Homo sapiens: one gene and its partner. Each later gene encodes a partner of the first gene's protein in a complex. Each region holds a gene or a part of one and is shown on either strand. Other genes may lie near its edges. The genes, in order: ADCY9 and GNAS.

Region 1 (4,024 bases):
CCCATCAGAATTCCCTAGATTTAACATTCATTGATGATTCTTGCCTCTGTCTTCACTATAATGCCTCAAAGGGTGATTTTCAGCCAGGCGCTGTGGCTCACGCCTATAATCCCAACACTTTGGGAGGCCGAGGCAGGTAGATCACCTGAAGTCAGGGGTTCAAGACCAGCCTGGCCAACAAGGTGAAACCCCGTCTCTACTAAAAGTACAAAAATTAGCTGGGCGTGGTGGCGGGTGCCTGTCATCCCAGCTACTCAGGAGGCTGAGGTAGGAGAATCGCTTGAACCCAGGAGGCAGAGGCTGCAATGAGCTGAGATCGCAGCACTGCAACTCCAGCCTGGGCAACAGAGCGAGTCTCCATCTCAAAAAACAAATAAGAAATAAATGGAGCAGCACAGCTAATAGCAGTGTCGCTTCTGCCACTTGACTGCTAAAATGTGGCCTTGTGCACATCCTCTCTGCAGCTGCGTGGTTGCTCTTCCCTCAGTCCACACTCCCTGAGTCAGGGGAGGAGAGAGGGTCAGTGTCCTGGGACAGAATTATTTCTCTTCTGAGTCTGAGAATGTTGGAAGTTACTGGATACCTGTCACAGAAAGGAGAGTGTCCGCCGTGCTGCAAGGACAGGAAGGAACACACGTGATGAGCCGTACTTTGTGTGGGGGGCACATGAGGCACTTGACATATTTCACCTGATTTACTCTTTTTTTTTTTTTTTGAGACATAGTCTTGCTGTGTCACCCAGGCTGTAATGCAGTGGCGCCATCTTGGCTCATTGCAACCTCCATCTCCCAGGTTCAAGTGATTCTCCTGCCTTAGCCACCCGAGTAGCTGGGATTACAGGCACCTGCCACCAGGCCTGGCTAATTTTTGTATTTTTTGTAGAAACGGGGGTTCACCATGTTGGCCAGGCTGGTCCCGAGCTCCTGACCTCAGGTGATCCGCTTGCCTCGGCCTCCCAAAGGTCTGGGGATTACAAGGATGAGCCACCGCGCCCAGCCTCGTCTAATTTACTTCTGATAGTCACTGTATGAGGGAGAGAGGCTAACACAGCTATATTTGCTTTCTGAAATCATGTTAACGTTCCCTTAGTTTCTAGTAATTTTCTGCAGTATAGAAAGGATATTACTATTTGCTGGCAATTCATAAATGAATGAAAGAGTCATGGAAAGCGGGGTTGATTTCCCTGCTATTAAAATCACTGAGCTTTATCATTCTGCAGGTTTCACATGCAATCTGCATATGTGACAATAGCACCAAAATTACGCTAACTATAAACACAATTTTGTGATAACAACCTGTTAGCTTTTACGGTGGCAATTACTGTCAGTGCTCTGAATGACAGGACCGCCGGTTCTGAATTATGTTTTCGTTTGAAGCCTCCAAATCCATGTAAGTACTCTCAGCACAGTGATCTGCGTGTTCTTCACAAAAGATTGTTTCAAAGAACAGAAAAGCTGCCTTCATCTTCTCCTAATCCTAGACATTAGGAATGTGTTTTCAAAAACAAGCCTCAGCAGCTCACGCTGTCATCCCAGCACTTTGGGAGGCCGAGATGGGTGGATCTCTTGAGCCCAGGAGTTCGAGACCAGCCTGACCAACATGGTGAAACCCCGCGTCTGCTAAAAAATACAAAAATTAGCTGGGTGCGGTGGCAGGCGCCTGTAATCCCAGCTACTCAGGAGGCTGAGGCAGGAGAATTGCTTGAACCTGGGAGGCGGAGATTGCAGTGAGCCAAGATCGCTGCGCCATTGCACTCCAGCCTGGGCGACAGAGTGAGACCTTGCCTCAAAAAAAAAAAACCCCAAAAAACCAAGGTTCTGATGATGTGTGCTATAATCATGGTGGATGGTCATTCTTTAACGAAGGTGAAACACAAAATATGATTATGCTTTGAGGTGCGAAGGACTTTCCACAGATCTGTTTTAACAAGGGGCAGCTGAGTGGCGTCTGTTCCACAGGCGCTTTTAGACGCAGCTGTTGTAATATACCTAATGAGCAGCGTTTTGGTAGCTAATTATGATCTGAAAACATTGGCACAGTTATGGTGCTGGGTATTGATCGACTGCATTTGTTGTGTCTTCTAGCCTGATGAAAGATTACTTTTTTAAGCCGCCCATTAATCAGTTCAGCCTGAACTTCCTGGATCAGGAGCTGGAGCGATCCTACAGGACCAGCTATCAGGAAGAGGTGCGTTCATTTCTCCTTGCGCTTTTACTAAAGAATGTGTTTGTTGTTCTCACATGGTCATTCACTGTTAGTTTTGTGCTTTACCAAGGGATGGGAACACGAAGGCGAACATTGATTTCCCACACTCTGTAAACCCTAAGTGGCAACTGTACATGAAATGTCTCTTTGCAAAGGAGGAAAAAAACCCTTTCTTTAGTCCTTTGTCTTAAAGCGCAGCCTCGCCATTACTAGCCCCTTTCCTCTGCCGTGGCATCTCCAGGCTATCCCCAGCCTTGGAAGGGGCCCCCCCACCACAACCTGTCCTGAAAGGAAACCCCCAACCTGCCCTGGAAGGAAACCCCCCCACCTGCCTTGGAAGGGGCCCCCACACCTGCCCTGGTAAAGGAACCCCCCCCACCTGCCATGGAAGGGGTCCCCCACCTGCCCTGGAAAGGAACCCCTCCCCACCTGCCCTGGAAAGGAACCCCGACACCTGCCCTGGAAGGGAACCCCCCACACCTGCCCTGGAAGGGAATCCCCCACACCTGCCCTGGAAGGGAACCCCCCACCTGCCCTGGAAGGGAACTCCCCACCGACCTGCCCTGGAAGAGCCCCCGTCCCACCTGTCCTGGAGTCTTGGGTGAGACTCTTCTCTGTTGCCCTCCCTGCTTTCTTCCCCTGAGAAGGGCCCAGGAGGCCTTCACCTCTCTCTCTAACTCCGGCTCCATGTTCCCTCTCCCGCCCCCACCGCCTTAACCCCTTGTACTTGACTTCTCAGCCCATCACCCAATCCCACTTCCTCCAAGAAGCTCTCCCCGACTGCAGACTGGATTGTACTTCCCTTCATACACTTCCTTCTCCGTGTGTGCCCCATTTTGGAATCTTTCCGTGTGTGGTTCTGGATTCGTGTTCCTCCCTCCCTAGATGCTCAGCTCTGTGAGGTAGGACCCCCGTCTCTCTCCTCCAGCCCCTCCTTACAGCCTCCAGCACAGTCCCAACACCCATCTCTCTCCTCCAGCCCCTCCTCACAGCCTCCAGCAGAGTCCCAGCGCTCACAAGTGCTCCTTAGGGGGTTGCTGGAAGGAATAATACAAGAACCTAGAGCCTGGTTTGAATCCTGGCGGCTTCCAGACTGCATTCTCTCCTCTGGGCCCAAACCTAACCTCTGAGTGTTCCCAAGTCAAGAGTGGATGCCCTCCCCACCCGGAACAAAAGGGATTTCTCACTCTGATTCCCTTGGTTCCTCCAGCAGGTCTTCATTAAACTCCGTGGTGTCCTGGCTTGGGCTCTAGAGAGACCCTGGTGAGCCCAGTAGAGCCAGTTCATGCCTCGTGGGGTGGGAGGTGCCCCCTTCCGTCAGCCTCCAAGGGACAGTGAATATCCGTTAATGTCCCAGACATGGCTCCCGGAGTGGACTTGCAAGTTGGCAGTTGGCTGGTTGGTGGCCCGTAAGGCAAAATATCGTCTCATTTAATGCTCATAGCAATGCTGTAGGGAAGCTGATGATTATCCTCCTTTTACCAAAGAGCTGACGCTGAGCAAGGCTGAACAGGTGGCTGTGGTCCCATAGCCGGGGTCGGACACGAGTGGTCTGGCTGCCAAACCAGGCGTCCGGGCCGCTTCTCGCCCTGCACTGCTGAGCCTCCCAAACAGCAGACACCTTTGCCATGCCTTCCTCCAGGCACCAAATGTACGCTCAGCCTCTGCTCTGCCAGGGACTGTTCTTGGTGCTGGGGAAGGGGGAAAGACGTGGCCTGATGGGGAGCAGGAATTAGAAACAACATCCGGAGCTGGAGGTCTGCGAGTGCCCTCCCAGCACACGGCGAGGCACCAAGCCCAGGCTGGGGGCTCCAAGGGG
Region 2 (3,500 bases), on another chromosome or scaffold:
GATATTGATTACGGGCTTGTGAAAAGGCAAGTAAAGGAGGAATGCTGTGCTATCTGGGCATTAAAACAAAACAATACAATTAAAAGTTAAAAAGAAAGAAAAAGGTAATAACAGATTTGTGTGGAAGGAGGGCAAAAAAACTTCACACGTGGATTATCTGTTGGAGAATGTGCATTGCAAAAAAGATGCAAAATAGCAATCCTCCCTCTAGCTTGATGGAAATGTGTTTTTTCCATGAAACATATATGTATTTTTACAAATGAAAGATGATTTAAAATGGAGGCATGTGTTTCTACTCTTTGAGTTGGGAAGGGCTTGGAATCTTTCAAATTCAGTACTTCCCAGGGATAGTTTTCCTTTTGATTAAAGTTTTGTTCTTATGTTACTTTTTACTGTTGTTTTTGCAGTTTACCTAATGCTAATAGGGTCTCAGGAACTGTATTTGATGTTAAAGTGTGGTTTTTCCAGAAGATGACAGATAATTGATGGTCTCCCCTTTTCCTCAGCAACATAGTTGTACCCAGAGGGAATTTATCTTTAGAAAGATATAGTTTGTGAGGAAAGAGGAGGATGGATAAGTGGATAAAATGTAATGCAGTTTTAGGGGTGGATTTTTAAGTAGCCCAAGGGGTAGGAAACCTGCACAGAAAGAAGCTGCGTTGTGAAAATGTTGAGGAGGAAAGTGCTGCATCGCTACGTGATGTGGAAGAGACTGCAGTGTCTGGGCATTGTTGGGAATCCCGGGTATTTTAACCATGAAACATCTGACAACAAATTATGTGTCTAGATATGTTTATGTGTGAATGTTCATGTATCAGGGATTCAGTTTCACAGTTTTAACTTCAATTTTCTTGTTTACCCCACAAATGACAAAATTGCGTCATTCCTTCTCTTTGCCCCTTTCCAACACCACCCCACAATTTTTTAAACAATCAAAAGAAAAATTAAAACCAGCAAACCTTAAATTCTTGTTTGTTATTTGGATGGTGAAATACTGCAGGTAGACACTGAATTGGACATTGATTTCCTTTTCTCTGCGTCGAAATGTCAAGGAAAGTTGCAAGTCTGTGATTTTGTGTTTGGTTTTTTGCATGTTGCTTCTATGGAAAAACAAAACAACAACAGCAGACCTCCCTGCCCAAAGTGTTAAAATGCCTCCTTCATAACCTGAGACTTACTTTCATTTTCTAGGTGCTGGAGAATCTGGTAAAAGCACCATTGTGAAGCAGATGAGGATCCTGCATGTTAATGGGTTTAATGGAGAGTAAGTGTCAAATCTGTGCAGGGGGGCACCAAGTAAGAGGAACAGACTTTATACTAACCTTTAGGAAGTATAGGTGGGCTTTGGGGGCTGGGCAGCCAGTTTTCACTTAATTTTTCCTGATTTACATATTAGAAAATCCTGGGAAGGGCTCTTTAGGGTCCCTCACCCCCCACCCCCTTGGATCTTTGGTGCAACAAATACTACTGATGAAAGCACCAGTGTTTGTGACAAACATCTCCCTATCCCAAGAAAATCGTGCCTGGTTGCAGGGGACGCTTGACAGCACTTGGCCCCGTGACAGCCCCTCTCCGGGCCAGGTCCCTGCCACAGTCTTCGGACATCACTGCAGTGTCTTCAACGTGGCTTTGGCCGCCCCCTCGTCCGGCCCACGCTGATCACTGCAAATTCACCCCACCCCACCTCACGCAGATTTCAATGTAATGAACCAACACAGGATGTTTTAAACTATTAGGGAAACATTGTTTCCATAATATTCTCACCAGAAACAGATGTGGAAGTGGCAGCCCGTGTTTACAGTTTCTCATTTTTTTTGTCCCCCTTTAAATTACCATTATGGGTAAATCATTGTTTCCCTTTAAAACAAAAAACAAATCAGTACCCCTGCCTACAGAAAAGAAGAGGGAACATTTATTTAAAGGATGGAAAGACTGGGAGTTAGGCACTCCCAGCCTCACTGAGGGGCATTTTTGCCTTTGAGAAGTCCTCCCAGGTATCCTGGTATAGCACAATGTGGCAATCCGTAGTGGGAATGAAGATTAAACAGGAGAGACTTTGTATTAGACCTGTGAGACGAGTTAGGAAGCCCTGCCTGGCATGGGGAATGCAAACAGGGAACATTCAATAAATCGGGGAACTTGCTTTTCTCCCCAAGACCCCAGATGGGGCCTACCCATCGTTCTCGTGTAACAAAACGTGTAAAAAAAAAAAAAGAAAAAGAAAAAACAAAACAAAAAAACTAAGTTGACCAGTCTGTTTTCACTGGTATGAGAGCATTAACCGCACTAGATTTCAAGCACCTGAAGGCACTAGTTTGTAATTACTAGCTGGTTGGCACAGTCCTGTTCCCTTTCTTAAACTTGGATTCGATTGAAAATTTAACCTTGAGTTGCTTCAGCTTCCATTTCAAAAGGGGAGTTGGAGTCAAGGTGGTAGCGTTTAATTATACCAACCACCCCCCAAAAAAACAAACAAAACAAACAAAAAAACCTTTACTAGTCACTAAGCATCCAGGAAACAAAGGTGAACTTTTTCACCTTTCAGAGCAAGGCAGGCAGCTCCTTATAGAGAATTCTAGAATTTGTTAGATCAAATAATTGTTTAGAGAAGGATGACATCACCCATACGAATAGTCCTGTTAGTTGAGGATGCTTTTTCTACTTTAACCCTGAATTCAGAAGGATTGGTTGGGATGCACAGGGGGCTTCTTCACTCATCTGATTATGACTCTCAATGGGTTATCAACATGCACATACGTGCTATTGAGTAAGTCAGCATCACTTGTCACCAACCAATTCCGAAATTAATTCTTGACACACCCCTCGATAAAGCCCTGCCAGCGGAGACTGCCATCCTGACAATAAATAAATAACCCTGAGACAGACTTCCAACCATGAATCTGTCATTTGAAGAAAAATCTTGCATAAATTTTCCCCCTGCAACTTGCAGGAGTACTTACTTATTCATGAGAGTAGTTAAGCAAAAATAATTTGACCATGTATCCTCTAGATAAATATTTTGATGAAAACTGGACATGGCTAGCATTTTTCAAAGATGCAGCAGCCACTGTTTACCTTAGCTTGAGTCGGATGGAAGCTAAGTCACCTTTGAAATAAATTACTGACAGCTTCATTACAGATTGCCCTAAAATTTAAAAATTTTTATAGAAAGGATTCTCCTCCCTAAGCGAGCCAGCCTGTAACACCAGGCAAGGGTTTTAAACCAGAACTTCTCTTTTCTGTTTTCTTTTTGGAAAGAGGAAGCAACATTCCCAGTTTGCCTTCTTTGCAGACAAGGGCACAGATACGTTAAATTTAGCCTGTGAGAGGGTTTACAGGGGTATTCCTCATGGGAGCCTAGATACCTTATTTTTATCTCATCCAACTGCCTCCTTTTTTCTTTTTCCTCACTGCGGTATTGCAACAAAAGCTATTTCCTTCTTAACTAGGAATTCCCTATGAGACAGTGACATCTGTCCCTAAAGGGTGGTCTGGGTGGT

Evidence for each region.
Region 2: the proteins of ADCY9 (region 1) and GNAS are in contact, whole or in part, in a cryo-EM structure (PDB 9U3P), measured with the Homo sapiens proteins. Residues at the interface, in NP_001107.2 of Homo sapiens: Ala381, Phe382, Arg383, Phe1070, Glu1072, Tyr1075, Glu1076, Glu1080, Cys1081, Arg1083, Val1084, Glu1087, Asp1091, Phe1152, Asn1155, Met1156, Leu1157, Trp1158, Phe1159; in NP_000507.1 of Homo sapiens: Ile207, Glu209, Phe222, Arg228, Arg231, Arg232, Lys233, Trp234, Ile235, Gln236, Phe238, Asn239, Glu268, Leu272, Ser275, Ile276, Asn278, Asn279, Arg280, Trp281.

What each region holds. Positions count from the first base shown.
Region 1 is NC_000016.10:3,987,157-3,991,180, reverse strand, and holds part of ADCY9 (adenylate cyclase type 9), read left to right. Parts: intron 1-2,084; coding exon 2,085-2,187; intron 2,188-4,024. UniProt on the Homo sapiens protein: Adenylyl cyclase that catalyzes the formation of the signaling molecule cAMP in response to activation of G protein-coupled receptors.
Region 2 is NC_000020.11:58,894,421-58,897,920, forward strand, and holds part of GNAS (protein GNAS), read left to right. Parts: intron 1-1,191; coding exon 1,192-1,264; intron 1,265-3,500. UniProt on the Homo sapiens protein: Guanine nucleotide-binding proteins (G proteins) function as transducers in numerous signaling pathways controlled by G protein-coupled receptors (GPCRs).